3 linked regions of the Homo sapiens genome follow. The protein of the gene in region 1 purifies or fractionates together with the protein of each later gene. This does not show direct contact. Each region holds a gene or a part of one and is shown on either strand. Other genes may lie near its edges.

What was found. Proteins that work in one complex are often made in the same cells at the same time.
Region 2: the proteins of PARP12 (region 1) and RNF114 purify together in Homo sapiens (affinity purification with mass spectrometry; 4 studies listed by BioGRID and IntAct, with this or other methods). This does not show direct contact.
Region 3: the proteins of PARP12 (region 1) and MKRN2 purify together in Homo sapiens (co-immunoprecipitation; 3 studies listed by BioGRID and IntAct, with this or other methods). This does not show direct contact.

Annotation. Positions count from the first base shown.
Region 1 is NC_000007.14:140,024,952-140,032,000, reverse strand, and holds part of PARP12 (protein mono-ADP-ribosyltransferase PARP12), read left to right. Parts: intron 1-3,312; coding exon 3,313-3,388; exon of another isoform or gene 3,389-3,389; intron 3,390-4,594; coding exon 4,595-4,725; intron 4,726-5,652; coding exon 5,653-5,804; intron 5,805-7,049.
Region 2 is NC_000020.11:49,939,364-49,946,412, forward strand, and holds part of RNF114 (E3 ubiquitin-protein ligase RNF114), read left to right. Parts: intron 1-932; exon of another isoform or gene 933-1,037; intron 1,038-2,197; coding exon 2,198-2,348; intron 2,349-6,018; coding exon 6,019-6,125; intron 6,126-6,772; coding exon 6,773-6,887; intron 6,888-7,049. UniProt on the Homo sapiens protein: E3 ubiquitin-protein ligase that promotes the ubiquitination of various substrates. In turn, participates in the regulation of many biological processes including cell cycle, apoptosis, osteoclastogenesis as well as innate or adaptive immunity.
Region 3 is NC_000003.12:12,581,054-12,584,229, forward strand, and holds the end of MKRN2 (E3 ubiquitin-protein ligase makorin-2), read left to right. Parts: intron 1-754; coding exon 755-899; intron 900-1,062; coding exon 1,063-1,200; 3' UTR 1,201-2,660; downstream 2,661-3,176. UniProt on the Homo sapiens protein: E3 ubiquitin ligase catalyzing the covalent attachment of ubiquitin moieties onto substrate proteins.

The DNA of each region.
Region 1 (7,049 bases):
TCGTTTTGTTATATAAATGGCAAATATTTTCTCTTAGTTTGTTGTTTGCCTTTTGACTTTGCCTGTGAAGTATTTTACCATAAATATATATCTCTTATTATTTTAGTTAAATGTATCAGTGTCTTACTGATTCTGGATTTAGAGTTTTGGTTGATTATGACCCTCCTATTTCTGGAAGTCATTTTTTATTCTTTTCCTATACAAAGCCTACCCTAGACAAGGTTTGGAAAAGTCTCTCTGCTTTCTGAGAGTAGATCTCTCTTATTCTAATTTAGTTTTTAGGGGGCCACAAGAAGATGCCAAATGTCCAAACTAAAAGTGATTCAGACTAAGATATGGGTGATTTGGGGTCTCCTGTAAGCGGAGTGTCACACACTGTTCACACAGATGAAGTGTTCAGTTCTTCTCTCTGACCCATGTGCCAGCAGCTGGTTGTCATTAACTCCAGTAAGCAAGTCTGCCTGGGCCTGCATGGCCAATTGGGAATCTGAGGGTAGATCACTTTCAGAAACAACTTTTCTGTTTACACAATTAATGAGGTCATAAAATGTAATGTCCATATTCAGAAGTCATAATACAGGAGTGTCATGTAAAATTTATTTATGTATTTATTTATTTATTTATTTATGAGACAGGGTCTCACTCTGTCACCCAGGATGGAATGCAGTGACCTGATCACGGCTTATTGCACCTTCCACCTCCCGGGCTCAAGCAATCCTCCCACCTCAGCATCCCAAGTAGTTGGGACCACAGGCATGCGCCACCATGCCCAGCTAATTTTTTTATTTGTTGTGGAGACAGGGTCTCACCATGTTGCCCATCCTCTATGAAAATGTTTCATTCATGTGATTGGGTCTTATTTTTTCTTTTCTTACCTTCTTTTGTGTATATGTATATTTTAAAGGCTATGGTAGAAACTACATGTTCTTCACTTAAGTACAAGTAAATCAATATCTTTGCCCTCCTATCTTTTCTTCCATTTGCCTTCCTCTCAACTTTTTTTAAACCTCAAGAGGCACCATTATTTTATACTCTGAAAGTTTCATTAAATTTACTCACATTTTTACCACTTTGTCCTTTCAGATTACCTTAGATCAGGGGTGTCCAATCTTTTGGCTTTCCCAGGCCACATTAGAGGAAAAAGAATTGGTCCACACATAAAATACACTAACACTAACGATAGCTGAACTAAAAGAATAAAAACCACAAGAAAATCTCATAATGTTTTAAGAAAGTTTACAGATTTGTGTTGGGTCACATTCAAAGCTGTCCTGGGTTACATGCAGCCTGCGGGCTGCAGGTTGGACAAGGCTGCCTTCGATGAAGATTTGTTGGAAAACTGTTTTTGGTTTGTCTGAATATGTATGTACGTATGTATGTATGCATGTATGTATGTATGTATTTTGAGATGGAGTCGCACTGTCGCCCAGGCCAGAGTGCAGTGGCATGATCTTGGCTCACTGCAACCTCCGCCTCTTGAGTTCAAGCGATTCTCCTGTCTCAGCCTCCTGAGTAGCTTGGACTACTGGCGTGCGCCACCATGCCCGGCTAATTTTTGTATTTTTGGTGGAGATGGGGTTTCATTATGTTGGTCAGGCTGGTCTTGAACTCCTGATCTCAAGTGATCTGCCCACCTCGGCCTCCCAAAGTGCTGGGATTACAGGCGTGGGCCACTGCGCCTGGCCAACATGTATTTATTTTGCCATCAATCTTGAAGGAAATTTTCACTGGGTATAGAATTTTGGGTTGTAGGGATTTTCTCTTGGATCATTGTGATGATCACTCCACTGTATTCTGGCTTCCACTGTTGCTTTTGAGAAATTGCCTGTTGGTCTAACAGGTGCTTCTTTGACAGTAATCACTCTTTTTTCCTTTGGCTACTTTTAAGAGCTTCTGTTTGTCTTGGAGGTAGGCATCCTCACTAAAGTGTATCTAAGTATGTGCTTTTATTTATCATGGTTGAGATTCTTTGGGCTTCTTAAGCTGCGGATAGGTGCATCTCATCAGTTCTCTTTGAAAATCGCCTCCACTGTCTTGTCTCTCCTCTCCTAGAGCTTCACTTAGGTTCTGATCATATTCAAGTTCTCACTGTTCTCCATGTCTCAACTTCTTTCCTGCATTTTCCATTTCCTTGTTGCTGTGGGCCACATTCTGGACAATTTCATTTCACATATGTTTCAGCTCACTGATTCTTCCTCCAGCTGGTCTAATCTGCTATTAAGCCTGTCCACTACACTTTTATTATTAAAGATTGTACTTAATTCTGTAAGTTCTATTTGGTTCTTTTTTAGATCTTCCAGGTCTTTTTATAGTTTCCTGTTCCTTGCATATGTTTTTAAAGTTTGTCTTTTTTTTTCCTTTAAACATAGGAAGAATAATTGTTTTGTAATCTCTCTGATAATTTCAGCATCTTAAGTCTTTGTGGGTCTGTTTTTGGCTGATTCTTGCTGGTAGGACCTTGCTTAGTTATTTTTGAACTGTGCCATTTTCCCAGGAAAGTTATTTGTGGGAGTTCTTTGAGGCTTAGGATGAAGGTATATGTTTCATGCCAGCAGAAACAGAAGGTAGATCTATTTAGAAAGAACAGTGTATTCTGAAACTTAATAGGAATGATTTGTAATTATAGTTTCACAGTCCTTGTTCCTGAACCCTTGATCCATATGTCTTTTGAACTGCTTTTATTTAATTTTTAGAAAGATAATGTGATGCTTGTATCACGTGACACTCTGTATTTTAGCACATTAATATTTCTGCAGTAAACAATATGCATAGTCAGTTTAAGAAGGATAGATACAGATCACAGTGGCCTCTTACTAACTTCAGTCAAATTTCTACTGCCAAATGACTTTTGATGTCACTTTTATGTTTTTCAAAAAATGTTTTATTTCATATTTTCTCCTGCTTTTCCTGAGCTGTATAAAAAGTTTTAAAATGTCAATTATACCTCATCGAGGCCTTAAAAAAATGTCTTTAGAGCTCTTAGAATTTCAGAATTGTGGATAAAGGTTTATGGCTGTGTGTGTGCTCCTTTAACCATGTACTCCATCCCTTTTATCCCTTTTGTGTGGTAGTTGGGACACAGGCGAGAAATAGATCTCTCAGGACTGTTTGGAGTTTGGCTACATAGGCAAAGATAAAAGTGCTCTCATGTTGTGAATATCGTGCTAACATTCTTCCTTGCCTTCTACCTGCTCTTGAAATATGATGTGCTGAGACTCAAGACTGGTGATATTGGCTAGCAGAGACCACCTATGGTATATTTGCTTTGTGTAAGAATAAAATGTCTACGTGTTTTTGTTTACATTTTTGTAGCAATACCAAGTTTCCAGGCCCGAAGAGCATCCCAGACTATTGGGACTCCTCTGCCCTGCCAGACCCAGGCTTTCAGGTAGGGGACGCATGCGCCTGGGGCTGGACAGGAAGGTGTTCTGTAGAAGTGGGTGTGTGTGAACAGACTGTGCCATTCCTCAACACTGAAGAAGCTGTAAGGCTGGGGCTAATTGGGGCAGGAGGGCAGTGACAGATGTGGGCTTTATTTTTGTTTTTGTTTTTTGCAGAGGGTTTTGTTTTTTCACCACCCAGGAGTTGGCTGTGGCTCTGAGGGGAGGGGTTGTCTTGTGGAGGGAGGAGGATGAGCGTGAAATTTGCTAGAAAGGGCAGAAATGAGTTTATGGGCTGGGCTTAACCAATAAATACCAATTTTATTAAGCGAGAAAAGGAGAAGCAGCCTGGGGAGGACCTGAGTCCGATGGACATTTGGAATGGGGTTACTGTCAGGAGGGAAGGCATTCACGACTAGCAGACAGGAGAATGGACAGTCAATTTGGCAGCTTGTTGAGGGGCTCTGACCAGTGGGAGCTGTGCTGAGTGCAGGAGAGTACGCAGACTAACATCTGAGGCTGCCCGTCTGCACCTGGGCTGATGTCTGCCAGCTGGCCGGCTGCCGAGCACTGTCTAACTCAGCTTTAAAACGTGACGGTCCCTGTCCTGGGAGGACTTATTGAGCTTGTATAAGGCACATGCAGATGCCAACAGTGCAGGCAAGAAGTGCTAAGGACCTAAAGGGGTTCAACATGTTTGTCTAGACGACTCTGTGGTCCTTGGACCATGTAGTCCAACCTGTGTCTTTGACCTGTGTGGGACAAGAAAAAAAAAAGGCAGGGACATCCAGGGGATACCCTCGATGGTGGCTTAAGCATCACGTGTCTGTCCTTTAGATTGGTTTCACAGTGATGAGGAGCAAAGTGACTACAATTTGCAAACATAGTAAATCCTCAACATCATCAGTAGGTTCTTGGAAACTGACTTAAAGTGGCACAACATACTGTCTAACGAAACCAATTTCCCATATGCTAACTGACATAAACAAGAGGTTTGTTGTTTTACTTAAAATTGCAGTTTCCAAGAACCTATCAATGACATTTCATGAGGACCGATTGTCTCCTGTGCCTGGAGAAACCACAGGAGAATGTGGTCACTGCTCTCTGGGCTTTTGTGCTTCTGCGGTTCTAGTGTTTACAAGAAGCTTTGGGAAGGGACTGATTTATATTCTGCACGTTGATGGTAATGCATTAAAAACATTTGCCCCTTGCAGAAGATCACCCTTAGTTCTTCCTCGGAAGAGTATCAGAAGGTCTGGAACCTCTTTAACCGCACGCTGCCTTTCTACTTTGTTCAGAAGATTGAGCGAGTACAGAACCTGGCCCTCTGGGAAGTCTACCAGTGGTGCGTTGGGGCTCGCTCTTGGTGGGCTGGTGACTCTGTCCCTTCACACCACTGGCTGGTTGCCACATGTGGCCCGGGTTTCCAGGAAAAGCAGAGCGGCAGTTAGGGCTGCCATGTGCTGGGAGCTGTGTGTCTGCTCTCCTTCGTCCGCTCCCCCAGGGCAGTGTGGTAGCACATCCCATTGTAGAGATGAGGGCACCGAGGCTTCCTGGAGCATACCACCTGGTCCCGTTCATGAGTGGTGGCAAAGCTAGCACTCTCACTTGTCCATTCTGCCTTCCTGGAGACCAGTGGGATGGGTCAGTACAGCCCACCACACCATTAGCCCCAGGAACATAAGGCTGTGGCTAGACAGCAGGGGTCTCAGGTTCATACATGAGGACTGGCTTGTCCTTGAGCACCCACTCACCTGTCTATGTGGGGAGGAATCCTACAATAGGTCACCATGGCAGGCTGGGTCTTGCTGACCTGTCCCCAGATGGGGTTGGGGTAGTGTAATGTGTACTCTGTGCACAGTGATGAAGTCTGGGAATGGGAGAGGGGAGAAGGATGGGCACCCACTGACCAGCAGCCTGAAAATTCCTACAGCATCCCAGGGCTCAGCTCCATGCAGGAGCAAGGTGGGGGTGGGGTTGGGGGAAATGGTACCCATTTTCCAAGGGCTGCTCTGCTTTTGGAGTCCAGGGAACCGCTGCTGTCTGGAGCTGTGGAGGGAGGGTTTTCACCCAGCTCCCACGATCCCCCTTCTTTTCCACACCCTGGCTTGTGGCTGGAGCTTACAGGCCTAGTCAGGGTAGCCTGTGACCTGCGTCTCTTGGTCCCAGGACACTTTTGGAATTTTGGAAAAATGTGTTGTTTTGCATCAGGCCGGCTGTATTTGGTGGCCGGCACACTCTGCCCCCAGCACACATTCTTCTGTGATTCTAGGCAAAAAGGACAGATGCAGAAGCAGAACGGAGGGAAGGCCGTGGACGAGCGGCAGCTGTTCCACGGCACCAGCGCCATTTTTGTGGACGCCATCTGCCAGCAGAACTTTGACTGGCGGGTCTGTGGTGTTCATGGCACTTCCTACGGCAAGGGTAAGGCATGACTGGCCTCCACCAGCAAAACCCATGTTGCTTTGCCCCTGCATAGGAACAGACTGCTAGAGGGCATGAGGGGACCAGCCTGAGCTGATGAGCAGGTTCAGACTCCATGTGTGGTGGTACCTGGGCACAGCTACCAGTCACATCCTTGCTCTTGCTCCTCTGGGCATGGTCAGGAGCTTGGCCCCAGGTGTGGGCAGGGTGGCCTGCCTAGGCTGGGGTGTTGCTTCCCTGTGGAGCAGAGGCCCTGGGAGATGGTGACAGAGACGGGAGAGGAGAGGGGATACCTTCCCAGCCCTGATGAAGTCCCTGACTGTGCCTTTACTATTGATTTCCTTAGAATAGAAACCAGAAACCCTCAGAGATACTCATGTAAACATGTATTCTAGCTATCACGTGAGTTATCTGAGTGTTTTCTTGTCTGTTATTTTTAAACTTGCCAAAGAAAATTTTAAAATACTATTTCTTTGGAAATCGAAATTCAAGAAAATTGGAATAATAATAATTAAAAAAAACCTCTTTGGGTAAATTTTACCTGCGTTCATTGGTTTTAACATGCTGCCACTTCTCTCTTTCTCTCTCCCTCTCTCTTTCTGCACCATTTTCAGGTAGGTGGCATATATTGTCTCCTTTCACCCTTTAACACATCCCAAGAACAGGACATTATCTTCTGTAACCACAATATGCTTACCAAGTTGAGAACATTTTCTGCCCAGCAGTCCATGTTCCGGGTCCATCAGTTCTTTGTTAGTCAGTTTCCGTCTGAGGCAGCGATGGCAAGGGGTCAAGATGGACAGCAGCCAGTGGTAGACTTGTGGATTTAAATGTACAGGTGACAGCTTCTAACTCAGATTTCCATTTGACAAGGCTCATAATTCTATACATTGGGCTGCCAGAGTCTACAGACTGCTTCCGTATATGGGATCTCATTCATTTTCCATGCCAACCCTGTAAGGTTGGGCTGAACAGCCCCATTTTATGCCTGAGGAATCTGAGGTTTGGGGGATTAAGTAGTGACGTGTCCACAGGCCTTTAGGTTTCGTGGGGCAGATCCGGAACTTGAAAGGAATTTGCTATCTCAGTTTGGTAACTCCTCAGATGCTGCCACTCAGAAGGGTGTTGGTATCACTGATGCATGTGACTTCATGAGGGAGAGTGGAGACATGGCACAGAGGGAGGGAGGGAGATGCGGGGTGGAAGAGTAGAGGCCCTGGCGTTGCACATCACCAGGACGCTATT
Region 2 (7,049 bases), on another chromosome or scaffold:
TAATGACAAGGAGGAAGGAGATTCTTAGAGGCAGTAGAAAATGGTCAAGTGTTCAGAAGATGGCCTTTCATTATATATCTTTAGTTCTTTCTGGCAGATTTGGTTATACTGTCTTAATCTATCAGGTTGGGTAAGTAGCCCAGGGTGTCTTCTCCATTCTTTCTGTATGCCTTATCTCAGCATTACCATCTTCCTAGGCTTCAGGATAGGAACTCGGTCATCTTTGACTTCTTTTCTTCAAAGTCAGTAAGTTATCAAGTCCTCCTGATTCTACCTTTCTGTGAATGGTTTCCTGAATTCATCCCCTGCTGCTTCAGTCAGACCCTCACAATCCTCTGCCTTTAGCCATCTGTTTGGTTTCTACTTTGTCTCTTCTCACCTTCTCACCTAAAAAAAAAAAAAACTATAGGGCTGGGCTCAGTGGCTCACACCTGTAATCCCAGCACTTTGGGAGGCCAAGACGGGTGGATCACCAGAGGTCAGGAGTTCGAGACCAGCCTGGCTAACGTGGTGAAACCCCGTCTCTACTAAAAATATAAAATTAGCTGGGTGTGGTCATGCGCGCCTGTAACCCCAGCCACTTGGGAGTCTGAAGCAGGAGAATCGCTTGGACCGGGGAGGCAGATTTTGCAGTGAGCCGAGATTGCACCATTGCACTTCAGCCTGGGCAACAGAGCACGACTCTGTCTCAAAAAAAAAAAAAAAAAAAAAAGTAACAAAACTTTGTTTTCCATGATAGCACAGAGATATTTTTCTGAAACCTGGATTTGGCCTTGTTTTGTTAATACCTTCCTTTTAAACTCCTGGCTCCCTACTGTTTATGAGGAAAAGTCTGTTAGATTTTTATTTCCTCAGATACATATCAATTTTAAGCCTAAATTAGGCCTAGAATAGTCTTCCCTTCCTCTGCTAGCTGACCTCTTTTTTTAAAATGCCAGAGGGGTAATGGGCCAACATCTGTAACAAGGTTCGAGGGTGGCACATCTCACACATGCACATGAACACCCAGTCCTCAGGTTCATGAACTACAAAAGGATCCATCTGAACCCTTTTTTTTTTTTTTTTGAGACGGAGTCTCGCTCTGTCTCCCAGGCTGGATGGAGTGCAGTGGCGCGATCTTGGCTCACTGCAAGCTCTGCGTCCTGGGTTCATGCCATTCTCCTGCCTAAGCCTCCCGAGTAGCTGGGACTACAGGCACCCGCCACCACTCCCAGCTAATTTTTGTATTTTTAGTAGAGACGGGGTTTCACTGTGTTAGCCAGGATGGTCTCGATCTCCTGACCTTGTGATCTGCCCGCCTCGGCCTCCCAAAGTGCTGGGATTACAGGCATGAGCCACCGCGCCTGGCTGAGCTGAACCCTTTTAAGGCTGATCAGAGATGCCGTCTCTGCAGTCTTCCCCTCCACCCCCCCCTTGAGACAGAGTCGCACTCTGTTGCCCAGGCTGGAGTGTGCAGCCACCTCTGCCTCCCAGGTTCAAGCAATTCTCCTGCCTCAGCCTCCCGAGTAGCTGGGATTACAGGCATCTGCCACCATGCCTGGCTAATTTTGGTATTTTTAGTAGAGACGGGTTTCACCATGTTGGTAAGGCTGGTCTCAAACTCCTGACCTCGTGATCTGCCTGCCTTGGCCTCCCAAAGTGCTGGGATTACGGGCGTGAGCCACCGCTCCCAGCCTTCACTGCAGTCTTACCAGCCCTTTCCTTCTCAGGTCACTAGTTGATTTTCCCTTTATGTTCCTGTAGCGCTTTGCCTTCACCTGTAATGATAGCAGCTCCCGTTTGTGGTGCGTTTTGTAAGGGCTGGACACTCTGCCAGGGGTCTGCTATACAAACTGTATCCTCCCAGCAGTCCTAGAGGTAGGTACTACTCTCTCCATTTCACAAAGGAAAAAATGGAGATTCAAGAAACCCCACTGAGATCCTTCAGTGGCAGGGCCTAAGGCTTGAAGCCTCAACCTTAACACCTTCACTGTGTCTATCACAGGAGTTTGCATTTGTTTCTGTAGTTGTGTGTTCTTTGTAGTCCACTCCTATCCCTCATTTTTTCTGGCTTGGAAGGACTTAGTATTTGAACTGGGAGGAGAGAGCAAGTTGTTTTTTACTCCATTATCCATTGATGTCTTTTTAAAAGTTGATCCATATTTGTCGTCTTGTCTCCATGATGCGTGACAGAGGTTCTCTGTATGTCTTGTTCTAGCTTTTGCTCTGCATGCCTGCAGGAATGTCTGAAGCCGAAGAAGCCTGTCTGTGGGGTGTGTCGCAGCGCTCTGGCACCTGGCGTCCGAGCCGTGGAGCTCGAGCGGCAGATCGAGAGCACAGAGACTTCTTGCCATGGCTGCCGTAAGAATGTATGTGGAAGTGATGTGGAAGAGTCCATGTCTTTCCATGATAAGTTGGGGTAAAACGTACAGCTGCCATGTTGTTGCTGAAGTTAGAGCATGACTAGGTCACTAACAGCACGCGTGCATGCCAATTACCTGTGGTGATGGCTGGGCTGGTTTGTTTTCATAACCTTACTGGTTTTTGTTTCTTTTTTTAAGAGTTGGTTAAGTATATATTTTAGGTTTGAAAGCCATAGAAATCAGTTATCCCAGTTTTTTCCTATAAAAGATCAATTATGGCCAGGCGCGGTGGCTCATTCCTGTAACCCCAGCTCTTTGGGAGTCCGAGGCAAGAGCTTGAGGCTAGGAGTTAAGAGACCAGCCTGGACAACATAGTGAGACCTCATCTTTACAAAAAAATAAAATTAGCCGGGTGTGGTGGTATGTACCTGTAGGCCCAGCTACTCAGGAGGCAGAGGCCAGAGGATCACTTGAGCCCAGGAGTTTGGGATTACAGTGATCTATGATCATGCCACTGCACTCCAGCCTGGCTGACAGCAAGACCCTGTCTCTTAAAAAAAAGTCAATATGAAATCATTGGATTGTAATAACAATAGCTAACATTTGAAATGCATCCATGCTCTTGTATAATCAGAGTCAAGTATATTTATTTTCATACCTGTTATAACTGCTACTGGAAAGGAGAAATACTGTTGTCTTATTTTCCAAGAGATATACACAGCCTTGTTGATTTTAGAATCATTAAAATTTTTAAAATTGCAGACCATACAAAAGTACACAATAATGTAGGCTTGTTCCTCATTCCAGAGATTACTTCAAAATTCGTTCAACTTAAGGCCTGGCAAGGTGGTTCATGCCTGTAATCCCAACACTTTGGGAGGCCAAGGTGGGTGGATTGCTTGAGTCCAGGAGTTCTAGACCAGCCTGGACAACATGGTGAAACCTCGGCTCTACTGAAAATACAAAAAACTAGCAGGGCATGGTGGTGTGTGCCCGTAGTCTCAACTGTTCGGGAGGCTGAGGTGAGAGGATGGCTTGAGCCCAGGAGGCAGAGGTTGCAGTGAGCTGAGTTCGTGCCACTGCACTCCATCCTGGGTGATAGAGCCGGACCCTGTCTCAAGGAAAAAAAAAGTGATTTAATTTCGAAAGCTGCATAACATTTTCTGCCCTTTGACAAACACTGTAGAATTTTTACCAACCAAGTTGTAGGATTTTTGCAAAATGAGATTATACTATAATATATATATTTCTTCAACTTTTTTCACTTTTTTAAATGTACACTCATTCCCAACTTTTTTTTTCCACTTTTCAGGTTTTTTTTCTCTTACATATTGGACAGCCTTGCATGTCAGTTTCATTATTTTTAACACTTCGGTATGGATGCCCATAGTAAGAATATACCTTACCATCTCCTTTTCAGCGTGATTTAGTATTAGGGATGCATAGTAGGGCCATTTCAATGCTGAATAGGGCTATTTTCTGTGTCTTAATTGGGGGCTTCACTCTTGAGGCTGGGCATGGTGGCTCATGCCTATATCCTATCATTTGGAGAGGCCAAGGCAAGAGGATCACTGACCCCAGGAGTTCGAAATCAGCCTGGGCAACATAGTGGGACTCTGTATATACCAAAACAAACCAACAAACAAAACCAGCTGTGTGTAGTGGTGTATGCATGTAGTCCCAGCTCCTTGGGAGGCTGAGGTGGGAAGATTGCTTGAGCCCAGAAGTTTGAGAGCAGCCTGGGGAATATAGTGGACCCAGTTTCTACAAAAAAAGGAAAAAAAAATTGAGGATTCCTCAGTTTGTAGCTTAAAGTCAAGTTCTTGAGCTGGAGGTGAGACAATCATCATGGTAAGCTGGAGCTCAAATATTGGAGCATTTTTTTCCCCCTTTGAAGTTTACTTTTAGAAACTCAAAATATTGAAATACAATTCCCTACTGTCTTCTTTTTTTTTTTTTTTTTTTTTTTTTGAGACGGAGTCTCACTCTGTTGCCCAGGCTGGAGTACAGTGGCGTGATCTCAGCTCACTGCAGGCTCCGCCTGTTGGGTTCACGCCATTCTCCTGCCTCAGCCTCCTGAGTAGCTGGGACTACAGGTGCCCATCACCACGCCCAGCTATATATATATACACACACACACACACACACACACATACATACACACAGAGATATATATATATATATATATATATATTTGTATTTTTAGTAGAGACAGGGTTTCACTGTGTTAGCCAGGATGGTCTCGATCTCCTGACCTCGTGACCCGCCCGCCTCAGCCTCCCAAAATGCTGGGATTATAGGCATGAGCCATTGCACCCGGTCTCTTCATCTTTATTTATGCATGCATAATGTGGTTTTTGGTTTTGTTTTGTTTTTTTTCTGAGACAGGGTCTGGCTTTGTTGCCCGGGCTGGAGTGCAATTGCGTGGTCTCAGCTCACTGAAACCTCTGCCTCCCAGGCTCAAACCATCCTCCCACCTCAGCCTCTCAAGTAGCTGGGACTACAGGCATGTGTCACCACGCCTGCCTAATTTTTTTGTATTTTCAGTAGAGACGAGTTTTGCATGTTGCCCATGCTGATCTCGAACTCGGGAGCGTGAAGTGATGGCCCACCTCAGCCTCCCTCAGGATTACAGGTGTGAGCCACCGTACTCCGCCCATGATGGGCTTTTTGTTTGTTTTACTGTATGCTTTTGCTTTTCTCCATTTTCAAGATTAGTGATTGTACTGTTGGCATGCCTCAGAAAATGTTTTTCTTTCCTTTATCTTCCCTCTTTTCTTCAATTCTTAAAACTTTCTTTCTTTTTAGAAAACCTGTAATGAAGCACTATTCTCTGGGTTTTCTTCTCTTTCTGTTTTACTGTTGCACAGCCTAGATTTTATATGAAAGGCTGGGCCGGGCGTGGTAGCTCACGCCTGTAAACCCAGCACTTTGGCAGGCTGAGGCAGGCAGATCACTTGAGGTCAGGAGTTCGAGACCAGCCTGGCTAACGTGGTGAAACTCCATCTCTACTAAAAATATGAAAATTAGCTGGGCCTGATGGCACACACCTGTAATCCCAGCTACTCAGGAGGCTGAGGTGGGAGAATCACTTGAACCCGGGAGGCGGAGGTTGCAGTGAGCCGAGATGGTGCCACTGCACTTCAGTCTGGGCGACAGAGTGAGTGAGACTCTGTCTCAAAAAAAAAAAAAAAGAGAATTTAGATTTTAAAGATTATTTCTCAGAGGCTGGTGATAGATACTTTAACCAGGGTTAGTGGCTTTTATATGTTTTACCTAAAGGATCACTTTTCTCTGCTGCACATAACAGAATGTGGTTTTTGGCTTGCTGTAAGGAGACTAGTTTAAATGCTAGTATAGAAAACTTTTAAAAACATCCTAGATTTGGAGCTTGTCTGTGAGCAGACAGCCTATCATGAATAGGAGCAAACCTCTAGGAGAGTTATTTTAGAGTGGAAGTGGATATCCTGATTTAGTCGAATAAAATAGCAGCCTTGGTATTAATGGGAAATCTGCAATAATCAGGGTTTCAGCCCCATCAGCGTAGTCAGGAGTTTGGTGAGATTATTTGCCAGGGTGGTGTAGGTCTAGTTTTCTTTGTGCCCTTGTTTGGGACTATATTTTGCCTGTTGCAAGGTCCTCACTAACTTATGGGCTCTGATTCTTCCTATTTGAGTTCTTCCTGTCCAAGATCCGGTCCCACGTGGCTACTTGTTCCAAATACCAGAATTACATCATGGAAGGTGTGAAGGCCACCATTAAGGATGCATCTCTTCAGCCAAGGTAAATGACTCAGTCTCCCCTTAGGTGGAGGTCATCTCTTGCTATTAATACAAAGAGGTTGCATGCCCAGGGGTTTAGTTGTATGAATTGTTATGCTGGCTAAAGCTGATACAAGTATTTTGGGAGGAGTATGCAAGGGAGGACTCTGGTGTTCACTTCAGATGTTAGCTGAGCTATATTCTTTTTTTCTTTTTTGAGACAGAGTCTCGCTCTGTTGCCCAGGCTGGTGTGCAGTGGTGCAATCTCAGCTCACTGCAACCTCTGCCTCCCGGGTTCAAGCGATTCTCCTGCCTCAACCTCCCAAGTAGCTGGGATTACAGGCACCTGCCACCATGCCTGGCTAAATTTTGTATTTTTTAGTAGAGACAGGGTTTGTCATGTTGGTCAGGCTGGTCTTGAACTCCTGATCTCAGGTGATCCGCCTGCTTTGGCCTCCCAAAGTGCTGCGATTACAGGCGTAAACCACCACGCCCGGCCAGCTGAGCTGTTATTTTCACAACACTTGACCTGAGTCTGAAGTGATCATCAGCATCCTTATCATTACACATTTGGTGAGCTTTGCTCCTTTTTGGAGTGTACTGTGGTTGAAGTTTAATGGAAAGGTACTCACAGAAAAGTTTTCTTTTTTCCTGTGTTTCACCTTCCAGGAATGTTCCAAACCGTTACACCTTTCCTTGTCCTTACTGTCCTGAGAAGAACTTTGATCAGGAAGGACTTGTGGAACACTGCAAATTATTCCATAGCACGGATACCAAATCTGTGGTGAGTAACCTTTTTTTTTTTTTTTAAACTTCATTAAGGGAAAGGATCAAGCTTGGAGAAAAATGACGGGATTAGTAGAATGAACTCCTGTGTGCCCTTCACCTAGATTGACAGATTGTTAACATTTTACCATATTTGCTTAACCATGCTCTATAGTACACA
Region 3 (3,176 bases), on another chromosome or scaffold:
AGTTCATTTGAGCAAAATGGGAATTCATTTGATTGAGTTTCCTTGGGCAGGGTTCTTAACATAGAGGTCTGTGGGGAGAATGGTAGAATTAAGAGAGAGGGAAAACATTTTGAACTGTTTGGTCACTGTATGCTGTAGACCCATGTTTTATGCATTGAAAAACACTGTTCAGAGAAGGGGTCCAAAGCACATAAGGCGTGAAGAAGCCCTCCCTGGTGCCGAGGTTGGAGACAGGAAAACTGGAAGGAGACCTATGGCTTTAGGCAGTTGCTAAAACCCTCTGCTTTCCCTGTAGCCACCTTGACAGCACTGCGGCCAGGAGGAAGGGGAGAGTTGGCTTGGTGGGGTACCTAGGGAACTTTGAGCAGAGACAAGTGGCCCAGCTTCAGAGCTTAGTGCCCAGAGGAGTGACCAGGCCTGGCTTAGCTCTGTGGTGACCCAGGAGGTGCTCTGGAGCTGCCGGAGGGCCTGTGGAGCACTGCAGTCTCCACACAGCAAGTCCCCAGGCAGGTTAATATCCTTTGCAAGGCTGCAGGTAAGTGGGGATACTTCCTATCCTGCTTGGAAATCAGAATCCCAGCTGTGTGTGACCTGAGACAAATCACTCAACCTCTCCCAGCCTCAGCTGCCCCACCTAGAATGTGAGGCTGACCTACCTCTGGCGTAAGGGTGGTAAGGATGGAGGCAGGCAGTGGCCCAGTTTGGACCCCTCATTTTCCCACCAGCCTCTTGACTTTTTCTTTCTGCTTTTCAGGAAAAAAGCCTGTAAATACTTTGAGCAAGGCAAGGGGACCTGCCCATTTGGAAGCAAATGTCTTTATCGCCATGCTTACCCCGATGGGCGGCTAGCAGAGCCTGAGAAACCTCGGAAACAGCTCAGTTCTCAAGGCACTGTGAGGGTAAGGACTTTAGCCATCTCTAGTTGGGGACACTTAGCAGCTGTGGGCATTTCCAGGTACCGTTCCTGGCAGAGAAATGGGGTAGGCAAAAGAACGATCAAGGAACGCAGCCTTCCTGTTGCTCTTAGCAGTAACCAGGCATGTCCACTGGCTGTTTTTGCAGTTCTTTAATTCAGTGCGGCTCTGGGATTTCATCGAGAACCGAGAAAGCCGGCATGTCCCCAACAATGAAGATGTCGACATGACAGAGCTCGGGGACCTCTTCATGCACCTTTCTGGAGTGGAATCATCAGAACCCTAAAGAGTAGATGGTTGCCCTGCATCTTGGGCTCCATCGGCCGAAACTTTCCCAAGCCAGGGTGTGCGGAGCTTCCCTGTACTGCAGCCAAGGTGACGTGTGACTTGGATTTGAGTGGAGTTGGGCTTAGCCTTAGTCTCATTCAATCTCCATTATTACAGCCATGGGGAAGAGTGAAAGATATAAAGTAACCTAATTAAATGTATGGAATTGCTATTTTTATAGCTGATATAGTTACACCTCAAGCCCCTCAGGGGTAACAACTAACAAACACCCAAACTGTTTGGATTGATTGCTTTAAAAAACAAACCTGGCTCTTACCTTTGATCTTTTCTTCCCCAGAAATAGTAAACTTGCAGCTGCCCCTAATGCAGCATATTTTTCTTACCAAAGGAGTCTTCAGCCCTATAAAAGGATTCCTCTATAGTGTATTTCTCTAGTGTATTTAGTGTGTCGTCAAAATTTTGATTTATACAGAGCTTTCAAGAACACACAATGCAAAGTGAGCGCAGCATAGCTGTTAACAAACATACAACTTTTTTCTAGGGCTTTAAGGGTGGTCATTTTTTTCAAGTTCTCTCAAGTGTCCCAAATCAGGGTAGCAATCTTGTTGCCACATGTGCAGCAAACAAAGTGGAAGTATAGATCTTCTTCTCCCTTAGGGAGGCTCTTGAAGGAGCAGGAGGTACAGTACTGGGTAGCAGTCTGGCCCTCCTGTCGTCTGGTTGGTGTTGGGGCCTCCAGCCAGGGCCCTCTAGGGGAACCAAGCCTCTGCTCTCACCTGTGGGTTCTTGCCCATCAGGGTAATTGTATTGAGAACTCAAATATACGTGCACTTACATGTGTGGTTCGTACTCAAGTGATCTATTATCTAGCTGCAAAGCCTGGCTTTGATTTGAAATTTTGTAAAAATTTCATGGCACCCAAGGTTTCTGATTCTGACCCAGCAGTGGTCCTGAAGAGAGCTGATGGCAAGTCTTGTAGTCATTTTGATTTTAATTGAAGGGTGAGCATAACCTTGTGAACCAGCACTAGCTTGTTCCAAGCTGGAATTTATCTAATCTATTTTTGTGTTTAAAAAAGCTGTACCTACCAAATAAATAAATAGTTTATAAAATGTATTACTTAAGGTATTAGCTGAGTTTAGAGTACTTTCTGCTTAATTAATTTTTATACTTAACTCTTCAGTAGAGGTTTACAAAGAGTACAAAGGTTAAATTACAAATTCATTCCCAGCCTAGGCTCTGGGCACATTTCCTGTTCTTGAATTCTGCTCCTGAAGAGGGTGAACAAATGGGGCATTCAAGTTGTGAGCTCAGAATTACTTTAAAAGGAGGTAACAGCCAGCCATTACACCTAAATTTAATTTATTTTATTAAAATAACATAATTGAGGGACCATCAGATAACTGTATTTTGTCAGGTGCAATAAAAACAAAATTAAAACCCAAATCATCAAGAAAACCTGTATTCCTGGCTTCCTTGTATACACATGATGTGACTAGAGAAACAAGGCTGTTTGTTTGTTTGTTTGTTAGAGAAACAAGGCTGGCCCTGCGGCCCCGCCCCATAGGGGCAGCTCCTGGAAGACAAAATTCAGCATGATGGAAGACTGCTCCCTGAGAGGGCTGAGATGCGGATTGGCCGAGTGCCTTGCCTGGAAAACCATCCCAATGCACTGGACACCTTAGAAGCTGTGAAAGGAGGACGTGTCCCCTAAGAAAAGTTCCATAGTACCAAAGCAGGCTCCTTCGGGCGGCCAGAGTCTCGGCAGTCCTGGGCTGTTTGGTGCCTTATGTGCAAAATGTCTGGCGCTGCACCACTCTCTGAAGAAAGTCCCGCCTGTGACATGCATTCCTCCAGAAGCTGATTTCCAAAATCCCATGTGTCTCCACATCAGGGCTGGACTGCCTGCTACCTTACTTCCTCTAAATACTCATGTAGCCAACAGCTGGGGCTGGGCCCCTGCTTTTTGTACTA